2 separate regions of the Homo sapiens genome follow, and region 2 is linked to region 1. The links come from fine-mapping of genetic effects on plasma protein levels. A gene starts in region 1. The other region holds a variant in brackets. All regions are shown on one strand. Distances are between the middles of the regions.

Region 1 (8,691 bases):
CGTGGTGGGTGAGCTGTCCCTTGGCGGCCCCTTCAGCACAGGACTTCAGGGAGGGGCCCTATGAGTAAGGAGGACAAGGCACTCGTCATCTCAACTCCCAGGGGGACGCCCACCCACCTCTGGGGTACACCACACACGCCCAGGGTCAGGCGGGGACGGGCCAGGGGATAGCATGGCTGGGGTGGGACCCAGGCATCTGGTGACCACATCAGCCCCTGGCGAGAACATCTCACTGATTCTGGGGCAGGCGGTGTGCCTGCTGAGTAGGGGACAGGCTTGGACAGACAGATAGACAGTCTGAGGCCAGTACGCCCCTCCTGTGCCGTATGCTTCAGCGTGGGTGCAGGACAGGCGCTGCAGGTCTGACCCTGAGACTCCGGGCCCCCGCTCCTCATGCTGGCCCGCCAAGGCTCTGTGTGGCCGGTCAGGCCTGGCAGCAGCCCAGCCCCGGGAGTCTGCCAACCCCTCCAGGCAGGCGGGACTGTGCCGGCGGCCAGGACGGCTGGCTCCAGTTTCGCTGACGTGTCCGAGGAGGCTCAGGGCCCGGCTGGGTCCGCCCCGTCTCCCCTTCCTTGGGACACAGCAGTCCCAAGGGCAGGGCAGAGAGGTCAGGGGTCGTGGGCCCTCACAGAAGGGGCAGAGAGGGCTGGGCCTCGAGTTCCTCAGGGACTGCGGCAGGTAGACCCTCCCTATAGGCGCGGGGACCCCTGGCTGGTGATTGAGCGGGGGTCCCCATGGGTGTCAGCCTCTTTCTTACTCCATCCACCACCCCAAGCTGGCGCTCTTCATTCCACAGATAATGCCACAGCCAGGAGCTCAGTCAGGCACTCACACGCTTTGTGACCTCATCCAAGCAAGCTCCCCTCTCTGGGCTTCCGTCTCCCACCTGTGACGCCAGGGCTTTGCCCGCCGGGCTGCACATCAGAATCATCCAGGAAGCTTTCTAAAAAAAACCTCCATGCTGGGGCCCCACCCCCAGGCCAATTAAACAAGAAATTCTGCCGGGCATGGTGGCTCACGCCTGTAATCCCAGTACTTTGGGAGGCCGAGGTAGGACGATCACGAGGTCAGGAGATCGAGACCATCCTGGCTAACATGGTGAAACCCCGTCTCTACTAAAAATACAAAAAAATTAGCCAGGCCTGGTGGCAGGCGCCTGTAGTCCCAGCTACTTGGGAGGCTGAGGCAGGAGAATGGTGTGAACCTGGGAGGCGGAGCTTGCAGTGAGCCAATATTGCGCCACTGCACTCCAGCCTGGGTGACAGAGCAATACTCCATCTCAAAAACAAAAAGAATGTCTAGGAGTGAGACCCAGGCAGAGCTGTATTTTGGAGAAGCTCCTTGAGCGAGTCCTCCGCACAGCCAGGGTTCAGAACACCAGGACAGAGGGTTGCAAAGGGGACAGTCAGGATGTCAGCTCGTCTTCCTGTGCAGGGAGGAGGCTCTGTATCCTGGAGCAGGTGTGGACCAGCTGGCAGGGCTGGGAGAGGGGCAGGCACAGGGTCTTCCCTCCTCCCTCCACCCAGGAGGCTGGCCCGGCCCCAGGTGGGTGCCTTCAGTAGCACCGTGGGTGACTTGGCAGCTGCCAGACCTGTTAGCCCAGGGCAGGGAGACCAGTGACTAAGGCCAGGCCCCAGCTCAAGTGAGCCCCTGGGGCGGTGGGACGTGCCATCGTAGTCACAAGAGGTGCAACCTGTCAGGGAGGACACCTGTGGCCCTGGGAGCTGTGCAGTGGCTGCAGCCCAACTAGAAATGGGCCAGTCCAGATGCCACTTTCGGCACGCGGCAGGTGTGATGCCACCAGGGCTGGGCCCTCACACGGGGCCTCCTCACTGCCCTGTCCCCACCCAGGGGCAAGCACCCATCTAGTAAGGCCCTAACCTGCAATTAACCCTGAACTTGCCAGAAGAACACCTTAGTCACCAAGGAAGGCCGCCAGCCCTAAGCTTCCTGGGCCTGGGGGTCTGAGAAGGAAGTGGCCCTGGAAGGGGTCTTGCCCTTCTCAAGCTCCCCATGCCGAACCCCCCACAATCACCCAGGGTTCTTGGCCAACCCGTGGCAGAAATGGCGCCCCTGGGGTCTGTGAGCTGATCAATGGGCAGGCGGGATGGATTCAGGGAGGCAGAACAGGACCTGGCCACTGAACCACAACCCTGCCCCCGCACTGCTCTCAATGCCCAGCCGGGCTCGGGGCCCAGGGCCAGCAGGGGCCCCAGCGGCCGCCCCAGCCCCTTCCCGGTGTAGGCCGGCTCCCTCCTCCCTCCTTAATTAAATCTCTCAGGCAGCCCCTGAGGAATGTCAGAACCTTATTGCATTCCCCACGAAGAGTCTGGTGGGGGCCGTCCCGAACCCTGAAGAATAACTGGCCCCTCGCCTGCCCCCACCCCCTGCCCAAAACCGAGGTGGCCTGAGGGAGCCTCCTCCAGCCTCCTCACACCCAGGGAGGCTGGAATGAGGAAAAGCGGGGGAGGCCGGCGGCCCAGCGCGGAGGGAAAGCGATCCGGCTGACTCTGGAATGTGGAAACCGATAAAAGGAAGGAGGCTGAGGCCCTGCCCCTCCTGGTGCAAGCAGGCTCCCCCAAACACCCCCACCCACCCCCAAATACACAGCCCTGCTCCAGTCACGCGCACACAGACACGCCCACGCCAGACACACGCCCACTGGGCAGTGCTCCTGCAGACACACACACACACACACACGTGCACCCTCCCCCTTCTCCAAGAACTCACGCAAATTCCACAGCAGTGAGGGGAGCTGGTTTTCTTGGCAGCACAGAGCCTTGGGCTCCCCAGCCCAGGGAGGGGACTCTAAGGGCAGCTGATGGGGGGTCCAGGAGAGGTCACTAACAGAGTTAGGTGGCCTTGCTGCCCTCCCATGAGCTCAGGGCTGGCCAGTGGTCAGGGATAGCCATCCCTGTGGGCAGCCTCCCCTCTACACACCTCTGCTCACTGGCAGGACTGGCTGTCTGGCCTGCTGAGGTGGGAGCTCCCTCCTGGGCTCAGCAGGGCCCTGCTTTCTTGTTCCCAGAGGCTGCCCAGTGTTGTGTTGGGACCCACTTATAAGCCCAGGCAAGGACTTAATTTTCTGTACTTGGGACTTGTCCCAGCTCCCCCGGGGCTGTCAGTGGGGGTGACAGTAATGGGAGCTAGGAGCCGCGGACCCATCTCCTGCCCGGGGCATCTCCCTTGCCATCTCCCTGGCCCCTGGGCTGCGTGCCAGAGGGGCCTTCCTCGGGTAAGCACAGGTCTGGGCAGTGTCTGAGAGGCTCCTTATGCTGAATCCCATTCTCCCATTCCCAGAATATGGAGAGAGAGGTGCCATCTGGACAAATGCCCTGGGACCCCAGCCCCCAGCCCCATCCCCATCTGACCCTCCGGACCCACAGGTAGCAGGACAGCTGTTCCAACGTGCAGGAGACAGGGGCGGGGTGGGGACAGGCAGTGCCCGGCCCCCAGGCTGGCATGTGTGTGCGCATCCTCCCTCCCCAGGCCCAGGGGAGGCTAGATAATGGTCTGGAGGGGATCCAGCTGGGCTGCTCATCACCAGAGCCTCTTCCTGCCTCTGACACTCTGTTTACAGAAGCTCCAGGCCAACTCCCCTGGGAGAAGAGAGTAAACTCAGGGGACTGCTCCCCATCCCCCACCCGCCTGCCCCAGCTCTGTTGGGTTTTTGTCAATAGCTGGGCCCATCCTGGACTTTGCTGCCCCCTGGACTGGCCCTAATGGACCCTGCTTGGAAGGTCCCAGCCCGGCCACCCCTCTATGCCCTCAACACCCAAAGTACAGTCTAGTGTGAAGGGACCTTGGAGATTTTATCCAATCCCCAGCCCTGGAGGCTCTCAGCCTGGGGAAGGGGGCTCTAGGTCCCGCTGCCTCTCTCCAGAGCCTCACCTGTCCTTGGTGCAAAAGGCAGGCATGGGGACACCTAGACCCCCAGGACCTCTTCCTTCCACCCTGCACACTCCACCCCTGGGCCACAGCAGGGGAGGCGGTCAGTGACCCTGGTGTGGCAATCGTTAACGAATGGGGGAGAGGCAGAATGGTTGGCACCAATCGGCTGGCCTGCCAGTGACCACAGGGGACCTCAGCAGTCCTCAGGCCCCAGCACTGCCAGCCCAGGGACACAAAGGACTAGGCTGGCTCCAGGCCACTGGGTTTGCAGCCCAAGCAAAGCCCCTTCCCTGGCAGAGGCAGAGACCCGGCACCCTGCCTGATACCCGAAGCTCTAAGGGCCCTGGCCAGTACAGGTCCATCCCCCACCTGGAGGGATGGGCATCGGACGCCCACCAGCCACTCCCCGCCCCTCCCTAGGGCTGCATATCTGTAGCCCCCAGCTGTGCTTTGAGTGACAAGGGTCCAGAGGACCCCGGGCAGCCCTTCTGCACAGCAGCACCTACTGCCGGACCCCAGGAGGGAAAAGTGACCCAAGCCTGTGGCTTGGCTATCCCCCTCAAAGGGGTTTGATTCATAAAACTGGTCATGCCGGAGGCCCAGCCGTGGGAGGAGGAAGCATGGGACGGGGTGTTTATTTTGTCTGCTTGCAGCCTCGCGGGCTCACCGCACACTCAGGCGCGCACCCTGGCCGGCCGCGGGGCTGTCGGCGCCCCAGGACGGCGGGGGAGGGAGCGTACAGGGCCTGCCCGCCGGGCGGCCCAGGTGACCGTGTGGGGCTGGGGCCGCGGTCCCGCCCGAGAGTGCGTGTGTGCGCGCGGCGGCGGTCCCCGCGCGTGTGCACAGCCTGGCCGTGGCGCCCCCTTCCCCGCCCGCAGCCCCCCAGCCCCACAGAAACTCACCGGGAGGCGGCGGCGGCGCAGGGAGCCGGGCGGGGCAGGCCGCGGCCTCAGTCTTTCCTGGCGGGTCGGGCCCGAGGGGGTCCTGGGTCCCGAAGCAACTGCGTTCGAGTCCGCGTCCACCCGCCCCGGGCTCGGGCTCCGGAGTCGGCTCGCTGGAGGCAGGTCGCGCCTTAAGAGTCCCGGGGGGCGGGCCCGCCGCGGCAGGGGCGGGGCCTCTCCCCATTGGCCGGGGCGGAGCCGCGTGGAGACACGCCCCTTCCCCACCGAGGGGCTCGTGGGCCGGGTTGCCCTGGCCCTCACCCTGCGGCCACCTGACCTGCGCGGGGAGACCTTGCCCGTCGTGGGTTTGCCGGATGACACTGGGCAGGTTTCTGCTTTTTGTGTAAAAAGCGAGAGACTATTTAGGAATCCTAAGCGTCACAGCCCAGATGCCTATGAGGCACCAGGCAGGTGACAAATGCCAGAAGTCCACCCCAGGGCCTCTGCGGCCCTGGAGAGGCAGGATGGCGGGAGTGGGGCTGGTAAGGGCTGAGTCCTCATGACCAGCCCGGGCCAGCTAGAGCTTTGGATTTTTGAAGAGAAACTGGAAATCCAGATTTTTAGGTGAAATCTCTCAATGTGTTATTGTTGGTAGCTAATCCCAATTTCAAAAAACTCCTGGCAGCCCACACAAAGCCCTTTCAAGAGCCTCCTAAGTATAAACTCCAATGCCAAATCTGAGCTCAGGGTCCTCTTAGCCACGACAGCCTTAAGAGTTGTGAGCAGCCCTGGACTCTCTTCCCCACCATATTATGAGATGAAGGGGCTGTGTCAGGGAGGGCAGTGGTGGTCTGCCCACGGCCCCACAGTTACTGGCAGCTTCAAGCCTGAGCTGTGGAGGCATAGGGGTGGTCACCGTCGGTGGGTGGGGCCTGGGCTGCAGTTGACAGTGGCCCTTGATTGGGCAGGAGGGGCGGGTGCCAGGGGCCGGACTAGTCCAGAAAAATCCCCTGCCTTGGAGGATTCCAGGAAAACACTCTGCCCTCCTCCCCCTCCGCGTTTGTGGTCAGTCATGCCTCAGAGCCTTTGGGGGCCCAGCTCAGCTCCTGACTTCCGGAGAGCCTTGGGACACCCACACCCCCTCCAGCCCGGCCTGTAGCCAAGGCCCTTGGCTGGGCTAGCTCTAGTCTTTGGGGGGCCTGAAGGCTTATCCCTGGGAGGCTGGGCCACACCAGCTGGAGGGTTTCCTAGTCTCTGGAGGACTCAGTTATCTCCAGAAGGCAGGATGGCCTCTGTGTCTAGCCGTCAAGGGCTAAGCAGGGCCTGGCTGGGACAGTCACCTTCTGGACCTCCCGTCCACAGGGCCCTCTCCCCACAGGGCCCCTTTCCAGGGCTGGCAGGGCTCCACAACCCATACGTTTCTCGGTCTACATGGATTAGGGCATGGCTTGCGGACCTCTGTTCCTGGGTTGGGGCTGGCCTTTGGGTGCATTTAGTGCAGGCTTTATGGGAGTTTTTACAACTTTGAAGGCACTGCTAACATTGAAAAATCAGGTGGTTTCATATTAAAATGGGGCTTCCCAGCTTGCATTGAACAGGAACTCTCAGCTGGGGCTGAGTGGCGGTTGCTCCCTCTGCCAAAATGTGGGCTCATGGGTCACCCCAGTCCCCACCACTCCCTGCTGCCTCCTGCCAAGCTGTCCACTCACTTGAGTTTCCTGCCCGGCCCCAGAACCATCTGAGTTTCCAATCAGTGCTGTGCAGCCTCTTGTCGGACTGTTTCCCTGCCTCTTCCCTTGGCCCTGTGTCCTCTGAAGCCCTCAGAAGCATCCACAGATGCCCAGGGTCAGGGGTAAAGAGGGCTCCAAGAGCCTCCAGCCTGGCTTTCCTCAAGGAACAGGACCTCCTGATGTCCTTGAAGCTTCTCACCTCTGTGGCAGGTTCTTGTAGACGGAGAGACCCCATCTGCCTGGTGTTCACCCCCTGCCCCAATCCTGTGCCCTGGCCTTACACAGGTCCCCACTTACCCAGAGGCTCAAGGGAAGCTTTTAGGAGACCCCTCTCAGTTTATCCAACATTGCCTTGTATGGTTTCAAGGTGCCACCCGCCTTTAGAACCTGGTTACCAGCAGTCTGCACACAGCGGGGGAGCTAGGGGCTGTGGGGGTGGAGGGGGGTCAAAGGATCCTAACTAACTCTCCAGCCTGGGTGATAGGGACAGATCCAAGGGACCCAGCCTGCTTTGAACTGGCGCAATGGCAGAATGTCTGGGTTGGTGGGAAGGGGCCTGAGCGGGAGGGATGGGCTGGAGGGGAGGACAGAGGAGGAGCCTTGCAGCTGCTCCTTGTAGCAAGCACACCCTTGGTGCTTCCCCTCGGTGCTAATCACAGGAGTCCTGGGAGAGCTGGCGGGGCTTATCCGGAGGCTGAAACTGCTCGTGCCTCCCAGTTGGTACTGAGGTTGTCTTCTAGCTCCTGGGACCTGGCTGAGGGGCGGGGGCAGATCTGGGCTTTAGACCTTCTATAACTTTATGCCTGGGACAGACCCCTGGACCTGGGTCAGGGTCAGAGCCCTTCCCAGTGGCAGGCCCAGATTCCAGCAGGAGAGGTGCCGGCAATACCTCTTACCACCTCTGGCCCTCTGCCTGGCTGGGGCTCATGTACCATGTTCCAGACCCAGACCCAGCTTGGCTCTCTTCACACAGCCTGGGGTCAGGCCCATGCCAACACTTGGCCAACCTTTGGGGCTGGGTGCCATGACCCCATTTCTTGGCCCGTGCCACGGCAGACAGGATGCCCCTGCCTGGCAGAGTTGTCCAGATGGCTCTGCCTGAGGCAAGGAAGACTGGCCTGACCTGTCAGAGGAGCCAGCCCTGCCCTCCCTGACTTCCTGCCCACTCGGCCTCAGCTCCTGAGTCAGTGGCTGGCTGGCTGGGACGATGGAACGGGGGTGAGGGAGGCTGAGCACCAGGCCTCCTCAGGCAGTTGGCTCAGCGCACAGGTGAGCCTCTGATGCCATGAGGTGGCCCCAGGCCTGTTTCCCACCTCTCATAAGGGCAGCAGAGGGGCCACAGGAGACCTGCCTATCCTACTTGCCCTCAGCTTCTGTCCTGGCACCTGTTTCCACTCCTCCCAGCCTGTGCCCCCAGCAGCCAGTGTGATCCCTACTCTGTGCCAGTCTGGTCCTATCCTCTTTCTATTTTTATTTTTTTGAGATAGGGTCTTGCTGTGTTACCCAGGCTGATGTGATTTTTTTTTTTTTTTTTTTTGAGATGGAGTCTCACTCTGTTGCCAAGGCTGGAATGCAGTGGTGCAATCTTGGCCCACTGCAACCTCCGCCTCCCGGGTTCAAGTGATTCTCCTGCCTCAGCCTCCTGAGTAGCTGGGATTCCAGGTGCACGCCACCATGCTCAGCTCATTTTTGCATTTTTAGTAGAGACGAGTTTTCACCATGTTGGCCAGGCTGGTCTCAAACTCCTGACCCAAAGTGATCGGCCTCCCAAAGTGCTGGGATTACAGATGTGAGCCACCATGCCCAGCTGGCGATGCGATCTTGACTCACTGCAGCCTCAAACTCCTGGGCTCAAGTGACCCTCCTGCCTCAGCCAGCCGAGTAGCTGGACCACAGGTGTGCACTACCACAGCAGGCTAATTTTTAATTTTATTTTTTGAGATGGAGTCTCACTCTGTCACCCAGGCTGGAATGCATTGGTGCCATCTCGGCTCACTGCAAACTCCACCTGCCGGGTTCAAGTGGTTCTCCTGCCTCAGCCTCCCAATTAGCTGGGATTACAGATGCACACCACCACACTTGGCCAATTTTTGTATTTTTAGTAGAGACAGGGTTTCATCATGTTGGCCTGGCTGGTCTCAAACTGCTGACCTCCAGTGATCCACCCACCTCGGCCTCCCAAAGTGCTG
Region 2 (8,691 bases), 60 kb before region 1:
AAGTTGTCTCTCGGCTGGGTGCAGTGGCTCACGCCTGTAATCCCAACACTTTGGGAAGTGAAGGCAGGCAGATCACTTAAGCTCAGGAGTTCAACACCAGCCTGGGCAACACAGCGAAACCCCTCTCCACCAAAAATAGAAAAAATTAGTCAGGCGTGGTGGCACATGCCTGTGGTCCCAGCTACTCAGGAGGCTGAAGCACGAGAATCACTTGAACCTGGGAGGTGGAGGTTGCAGTGAGCAGAGATCGAGGCACTGCACTCCAGCCTAGGTGACGGAGTGAGATTCTGTCCGCCCCACAAAATAATAATAATAATGATCTGTTTTAATGTATCCATCTCTTAACTTGAGGGCAGGAACTGATTCTGATGTATCTTTGCCCTTAGCACCCAGCATGGCTTAGAATAGGTAAATGAACAAAAAAGAAAAACAAATTTTTAAAAAGGGGGCCGGGCGCAGTGGCTCATGCCTGTTATCCCAGCACTTTGAGATGCTGAGCTGGGTGGATCACCAGAGGTCAGGAGTTTGAGAACAGCCTGGCCAACATGGCGAAACCCCATCTCTACTAAAAATACAAAAATTAGCCAGGTATGGTCACACGCGCCTATAAACACAGGTACTCGGGAGGCTGAGGCAGGAGAATTGCTTGAGCCCAGGAGACAGAGGTTGCAGTGAGCCAAGACTGCACCACTGCACTCCAGCCTGAGCCACACGGCGAGACTCTGTCTGAAAAAAGAAAAAATTTTTAAAAAGGGAAGAAAATGACTGAATAAATAGACGTCTCTGCTGTTTCAATTATTTTTGTAGGTAAATAAAATACAGTAATTGCTACAGCTTTACCTGATCTTTTTACTTCC[G/A]TGCCTAAAAATCTGAATGGTTCTCTAAATTAAGTCTTTCTCTTAAATTATGTCTCTGGGACTTACTAAGGGCCTCAAATCAACTGTCATGTGAGTCCAACCCAGCCTCCATCTTTTCAATCTTTTCCCACTCTTGGATCAGGCACCTGACTCTTGAGCTCAGGAAGAGACAGGCCATTCGCTCTTCACAGGCCAGGATCTCTGCTTCCTGTCCCCATGCCTCTGTTCATTCCATTACAACCCAATTAAAAAAAAAAGACAACCCAGTTAAAAGTGGGCAATGGATCCAAACACACGTTTCTCCAAAGACATACTAATAGCCAACATGCACAAGAAAGATGCTCACCATCATTAGTCATCAGGGAAAAAGCAAATCGAAACTCTAACGAGATAGCATTTCTTATTCACTAGGGTCGTAATTAAAAAGACAGACGATAATAGTTAAGTGTTCACTGGGATGTGGAGAAATCATGGCCCTCATATGCTGCTGGTGGGAATGTAAAATGGTGCAGCTGCTTTGAAAAAGGCTGGCAGCTTCTCAAAAGGTTAAACATCCAGTTACCATATGACTCAGCAACTATACTCCTAAATATCCAAGAGAACTGAAAACATGTCTACACAAAAACTTACATATGAATGTCTATATAGCAGCACTGTTCATGATAGCAAAAAGTGGAAAATATCCAAATGTCCATCAAACGATGAATAAACAAAATGTGATTAATCCATGCAACAGATTATTTGACCATAAAAAGGGATGAAGTATTGACACAAACTATAACACAGATGAACCCTGAAAACATTATGTGAATGAAAGAAGCCAAGACACACAAAAGGATACATATTGTATGATTCCCTGTATATGAATATTGAGAATAGGCAAATCCAAAGAGGCAGGACGCAGATTAGCAGCTGCTAGGGACCGGGGAGAGAGGACAATGGAAGGGGAGTGCTAATGAATACAGAGTTTCTTTTCGAGGTAATGAAAATGTCCTAAAGTTGACTGTGGTGACAGGTGCACAACTCCAGTGAACTGTGCACTTATAAAAAGCTGTCAATCCTACAATGGTGCCTCCAATATTGATTTTATTTTGTTGGTCAGAGCAAACCAAGGGTCTAGGAACCAGTGGTGTAGACATCTCGTATACAACTTTACTCAGCTACCCTAACTACCCTAATAGACCCTGGGATACAATGGGAATTTCACATTTTCCAGGTTAAGAAAGGGCCAGGCGCGGTGGCTCACGCCTGTAATCCCAGCACTTTGGGAGGCTGAGGCAGGTGGATCACCTGAGGTCAGGAGTTTAAGACCAGCCTGACCAACAAAGTGAAACCGCGTCTCTACTAAAAATACAAAAAAAATTAGCCGGGTGTGGTGGCAGGTGCCTATAGTCCCAGCTACTTGGGAGGCGGACACAGGAGAACTGCTTGAACCCAGGAGGCAGAGGTTGCAGTGAGCCAAGATTGCGCCACTGCACTCCAGCCTCAGCAATGGAGTGAGACTCCATCTCAAAAAAAAAAAAAAAAAAAAAAAAAAAAGAAAGGAAAGGAAGTAATTCTAAACCTCTAAACTTTTATCTGGATGCAAAAAATAACTACCTAAAACTTAGACTAGCATATCTACTGATTCAGAAAATACAGATTAAATTTAATTATGAAAACAGCTCTAGAAAAAAAAACTTCTTAAAATCTCTGGTTTGGACTCACCTCTTTTTTCTGAAGCACCAACCTCTACAGCATTGTGCATCGAAAAACAGTCTAGCAAAGTCCAGCTTTATCACACCCTTCTATACTATCAGCTCATGAGACCTATTCATATGGGCACATACGCTGTACTGATCAGGATCACATGGGATCAACAACATTCCTACTACAATTTGGTCACCAAAACCTGACTTCCATACAGACCTGATAATAGGCTTTCTTGATCTCTTTCTGGCTGGCATTTCGAGGCACTCCTAATATCTGATAATAATCTTCTTTGGCCAAAGGGGCACTCGTGTGGAAGGAGGCAGTACAAATGAAAGGGTTATGTTTTGTTCCTAAAAAGGAAAAAACAAAGAAAATCACTCTGGGAATGTTCTCAACAAAAGAAAACTGTGAGTACATGACCCACCAGGCTATATCTGTGAAGGAACAAACAAACTGATAAGGTTTGGCTGTGTCCCCACCCAGATCTCAACTAGAATTTTAGTTCCCATAATCCCCACGTGTCATGGGAGGGACCTGATGGGAGGTAACTGAATCACAGGAGCGGTTACCTCCATGCTGGTCTCGCGATAGTAAGTTCTCATGAGATCTGATAGTTTTATGAGGGGCTCACCCTTTTGCTCATTCTTCCTGCTGCCATGTTAAGAAGGATGTGTTTGCTTCCCCTTCCGCCACGATCGCTGAGGCCTCCCCAGCCGTGCTGAACTGTGAGTTAAATAAACCTCTTTCCTTTAAAATTTACCCAGTCTTAGGTATGTCTTTATTAGCTGCATGAGAACAGACTAATACACAGGCTACAGCTTTAGGGCTGTTCCCTAATGCACTTCAATAATGGCTAAGGAAGCCACAGTATTCAATTAATATTAAACTATGTCAGAGTATTGGATGAGGCTGATTCTCCTCGCTTATACTACTGGAGTGGTCTCAGTAAACCACTAAAGGAATAATACTCCTGACTGGGAGATGATTAAAAAGGGATTCAGCTCCCCCCTCTTATGCCACATGAGCACTTACCATTTGCTAGGTATTTTCATATTTTCATATTTTTCTGTCACATTTAATGCTTAACAACTCCCCACATTCTTTTCCCTCTATCTTGCAGCCTTGGGTATCTACTTAAGGAGCAGTTCTCAAGACTGCGCTCCCTGGACCAACAGCATCATTAGACTGATGAAAACACAGATGTTCAAGCCCTACTCCAGACATTCACCAGAAACTCAGGAGGTCTCCACCCACTAGATGCCAGTAGAGAACTCCCCGTCTCCAGGCATTGCCAAATGTCCCCTGGGAAGTAAAAGTGTCCCCTGCTGAGAACCAATGACAAATCAATCTAAGAAGGTCGGGGAAGAACTTCTAGGCATCAGCTGTTAAGCTGCAGAAACTGGCTAAGCTGCCCAGGAAAGCATTTGCCACTTTCAGTGGAAAACAAATGGCGGTTACTAACTAGGATGACTTTGTACTTTGGATCTGGATTCACAGCACCTTTTTTAATAGCAAGACACCAACTGCTTAAGAAACAAGGATGTTTTAGTTCATCCACTTAACAGATAGGAAGAGCAGGTTTTTTGTTTTTTGAGATGGAGTCTCGCTCTGTCGCCCAGGCTGGAGTGCAGTGGCGCCATCCTGGCTCACTGCAAGCTCCACTTCCCGGGTTCACGCCATTCTCCTGCCTCAGCCTCCCAAGTAGCTGGGACTACGGGCGCCTGCCACCACACTCGGCTAATTTTTTCATATTTTTAGTAGAGACGGGGTTTCGCCGTGTTAGCCAGGATGGTCTCGATCTCCTGACCTCATGATCCGCCTGCCTCGACCTCCCAAAGTGCTGGGATTACCGGCGTGAGCCACCGTGCCCGGCAGGCTTTTTGTTTCTTTGTTTTTTGAGACGGAGTTTCGCTCTTCTTGCCCAGACTGGCGTGCAGTGGTGCGATTTTGGCTCACTGCAACCTCCGCCTGCTGGGTTCAAGCGACTCTCCTGCCTCAGCCTCCCAAGTAACTGGGACTACAGGCGTGTGCCACCACGCCCAGACTGGAGGTGTTTTAATAGATGAAATCTGTTTAAAAAGTGAATAAGCCGGGCCGGGTATGGTGGCTCCTGCCTGTAATCCCAGCACTTTGGGAGGCCAAGGCGGGCGGATCACCTGAGGTCAGGAGTTAGAGACCAGCCTGACCAACATGGAGAAACCCCATCTCTACTAAAAATACAAAATTAGCCGGATGTGGTGGTACATGCCTGTAATCCCAGCTAGTAAGGAGGCTGAAGCAAGAGAATCGCTTGAACCTGGGGGGCAGAGGTTGCAGTGAGCCAAGATCGCGCCATTGCACTCCAGCCTGGGCAACAGGAGTGAAACTCCATCACAGAAAAAAAAAAGAAAAAAAAAAAGAAAGAAAAATAAGCCTGGGCACAGTGGCTCTCGCCTGTAATCCCAGCACTTTGGGAACCTGAGGCGTGAGGATCGCTTGAGCCCAGGAGTTCGAAACCAGCCTGGGCAACACAGAGACCCTGTCTCTATTAAAAATAAATAAATAAATGGATCAAAGACTTGAACTTATATGACATACTAGATGTTTGTAAATAAACTTATGACATGGAAAAAAAAGAGAGAGAGACAGAAATAGGCTAAAGAGGACTTTGAATCCATACAGATTTATACCTATAACTAAACTAGATGGCAGTGGTGGTAGTGGTGGTTAGAGATGATAACGATTAATGGGGCCTAGGAATAGGAAGGGCCTTAGAGCTATGCTAAGGAGTCTGGATTTTATCCTAAGAGCAATAGGGAGCCACTGCAAATGTTAAACAAAGAACCCATTAGGTTTGCATGAGAAACAACTCTAGGCCAGGCAAGGTGGCTCACGCCTATTGTAATCCCAGCACTTTGGGAGGCCGAGGCGGGTGGATCACTTGAGGTCAGGAGTTCGAGACCAAGCTGGCCAACATGGTGAAATCTTGTCTCTACTAAAAATACAAAAATTAGCCGGTCATGGTGGTGCACGCCTGTAATCCCAGCTACTTGGGAGGCTGAGGCATGAGAATTGTTTGAACCTGGGAGGCTGAGGTTGCAGTGAGCCAAGATCGCGCCATTGCACTCCAGCCTGGGCGACAGAGCAAGACTCCACCTGAAAAAAAAAAAAGAGAAACAACTCTAGGAAGCCTGGGAGACTACTCGAAGTTAATCAGCACAAAACACAACCAGAGGTTGGTTGAGCACATCCAAGTAGGAGGCCAGGTAAAGGATGATCAGACAGGAGAATGGATAGGAATGGTCAGGATACTTAAAATTAGAAATAGGAAATAAATCCGTGTGTTTGGCACACCCAATATCCTCGGGATACAAAAAGCACACTGGAAGTAGTAGGGGTCAGGAGACCACTTTGTGTTTCTTCAGTCAGACTTGAGAAAACACTAGACCTGACTTATTATTGAACTTGTACTCAACCCTCTTTTTATTTCGGAGTAAGGGGTTGCCCGGCCCAGTCCAGCCTCTCTCTCACCACTCATTCCAATGCCACAAGGCGGAGGCTGGTAGTGACCTGTGGCAGCTGTGGCTTCAACATTACGGGCAGAGAACACGGACAGGAGTTAGTACAGAGATAGTAACGCACAAAACTGCATGTGGATAAAGACAAATCACGTTTAATTACAAGACTGATGGCTTTGTTTTTTCTTTTTTTGAGACAGAGTCTCACTCTGTCACCCAGGCTGGAGTGCAGTGGTGTGATCTCGGTTCACTGCAACCTCCATCTCCCAGGTTCGAGCGATTCTTCTGCTTTAGCCTCTCAAGTAGCCAGGACTATAGGCGCACACCACCACACCTGGCTAATTTTTGTATTTTTAGTAGGTAAGAAGTTTCACCATGTTGGCCAGGCTGGTCTCGAACTCCTGACCTCAAGTGATCCGCCGGCCTCATCCTACCAAAGTGCTGGGGTTACAGGCATGAGCCACCATCCCCAGTCTGATGACTTTTGACATTATCCATAGGGCATCAATGATTAACAATAATTAGATTTCATTTAATAGACTATTTATTTTATCACATATGACCAGTAAATGTCCTGTCCTTTTTAGAACAACCCAGAATAAAATAAGCCTCCAAGTCGTTCTAAGAATGGCCAACCCACTGTCCAACAACTGCTTTCTTTTTTTTTTTTTTTGACAGGGAGTTTGGCTCTTGTTGCCCAGGCTGGAGGGCAGTGGCGCGATCTCGGCTCACTGCAACCTCTGCCTCCTGGGTTCAAGCGATTCTCCTGTCTCAGCCTCCCGAGTAGCTGGGATTACAGGAACCCGCCACCACGCCTGACCAACTTTTTCTATTTTTAGTAGAGACAAGCTTTGGCCATCTTGGCCAGGCTGGTCTCAAACTCCTGACCTCAGGCGATCAACCCACCTCCCAAAGTAATGGGATTGCAGGCATGAGCCACCATACCTGGCCACCAACAACTGCTTTCTTTCTGCTTGGAAGAAAAGTCACATCTAAAATGTTGTTATGTCATCTTACTACTAGATTTGAGACAAGATCACAGACTAGTGTTTGGACGCTGAGTTAATGACCTTTTCAAAATTTTTTTTTTTAAGAGACAGGGGTCTCATTATGTTGCCTAGGCCAAATTCAAATTCCTGGACTCCAGCAATCCTCCCACCTCAACCTCCTGAGTAGCTAGGACTATAGAGGCTCGCCACCACATGGCTTCTCAGTTGATGACTTTATTAATTTTTTGGTAGAGAAAGAGTCATACTCTGTTGCCCAGGCTGGAGTGCAGTGGCATCATCATGGCTCACTGCAGCCTCAACCTTCTGGGCTCAAGTGAAACTCCCACCTCAGCCTCCCAAGCAGCTGGGAGTACAGGCAGTTGCCACCATAGTTGGCTAATTTTTTTTTTTTTGAGACACAGTTTCGCTCTTGTTGATCAGGCTGGAGTGCAATGGCGCTAACTCGGCTCACGGCAACCTCCGACTTTCACGTTCAAGCAATTCTCCTGCCCCAGCCTCCCGAGTACCCGGGTTTACAGGCATGCGCCACCAGGCCTGGCTAATTTTGTATTTTTTGTAGAGACGGGGTTTCTCCATGTTGATCAGGCTGGTCTCAAACTCCTGACTTCAGGTGATCCGCCCGCATAGGCCTCCCAAAGTGCTGGGATTACAGGCGTGAGCCACCATGTCCGGCCACAGTCAGCTAATTTTTAAAAATCTTTTTGTAGGCCGGGCGCGGTGACTCACACCTGTAATCCCAGCACTTTAGGAGGCTGAGGTGGACAGATCATGGGTAAAGAGATCGAGACCATCCTGGCCAATATGGTGAAATCCAGTATCTGCTAAAAATACAAAAATTAACTGGGAGTGGTGGCACGTGCCTGTAGTCCCAGCTACTCAGGAGACTGAGGCAAGAGGATCACTTGAACCCAGGAAGCGGAGGATGCGGTGAGCCGAGATCACGGTGAGTCAAGATCATGGTGAGCCGAGATCGCACCACTGCACTCCAGCCTGGCTACAGAGCAAGACTCCGTCTCAAACAAACAAACAAAAAAAATCTTGGCCGGGCGCGGTGGCTCACACCTGTAATCCCAGCACTTTGGGAGGCGGAGGCGGGTGGATCACGAGGTCAGGAGATCGAGACGTCCTGGCTAACACAGTGAAACTCCATCTCTACTAAAAATACAAAAAATTAGCTGGGCGCGGTTGCAGGTGCCTGTAGTCCCAGCTACTCGGGAGGCTGAGGCAGGAGAATGGCCTGAACCCGGGAGGCGGAGTTTGCAGTGAGCCGAGATCGTGCCACTGCACTCCAGCCTGGGCGACAGAGTGAGACTCCGTCTCAAAAAAAAAAAAAAAAAAAAAAAATCTTTTTGTAGAGATGGGATCTGCCTATGTTGCCCAGGCTGGTCCCAAACTGCTAGGCTCATGTGATCCTCCTGCCTCAGCGCCAGCATAGCGCTGGAATTACAGTCGTGAGCCACCCCGCCCAACCAGTTGATGACTCTATCTGTGAAAACAGCACGTACCCTGAAGGATGCCACCTCTCACCTGTGTACACTACCTGATATAAAACTTGCCCATGGCAGGTTATGAGCTCACTTGGGGAACAAGACAGCTAACCGCAGTTCCTTAGTCACAGCTTCACACAAAGCTTAG

Direction of the effects. Positions count from the first base shown, and alleles are read on the strand shown. Strength reflects both the effect of a copy and how common the allele is.
With allele A in place of G in region 2, the plasma level of the protein whose gene starts at base 4,939 in region 1 is higher (weak association).

Evidence for each region. PIP is the posterior inclusion probability: the model's chance that the variant is causal. The UK Biobank Pharma Proteomics Project read protein levels with antibody pairs (Olink). The fine-mapping took linkage between variants from a reference panel, not from the people measured, so its PIPs are less certain.
Region 2: its variant is fine-mapped to the plasma level of the VASN protein (UK Biobank, PIP above 0.99).

The regions. Positions count from the first base shown.
Region 1 is chr16:4,368,096-4,376,786 of GRCh38, reverse strand. VASN (vasorin) reads right to left here and starts at 4,939. Exons shown (of 2, transcript NM_138440.3): 1 at 4,794-4,939. The region is part of intron 9 of CORO7-PAM16 (CORO7-PAM16 readthrough); the gene reads left to right. The region is part of intron 9 of CORO7 (coronin 7); the gene reads left to right. RefSeq lists enhancers at 1-469, 470-1,251, 1,345-2,124, 4,732-5,557, 7,134-7,633.
Region 2 is chr16:4,428,592-4,437,282 of GRCh38, reverse strand. It overlaps DNAJA3 (DnaJ heat shock protein family (Hsp40) member A3), which reads right to left. Exons shown (of 12, transcript NM_005147.6): 2 at 2,766-2,899. Among named protein-coding and RNA genes, the nearest start is that of DNAJA3, 7.1 kb to the right of the region's middle. The variant G/A (reference allele first, on the strand shown) is at 858.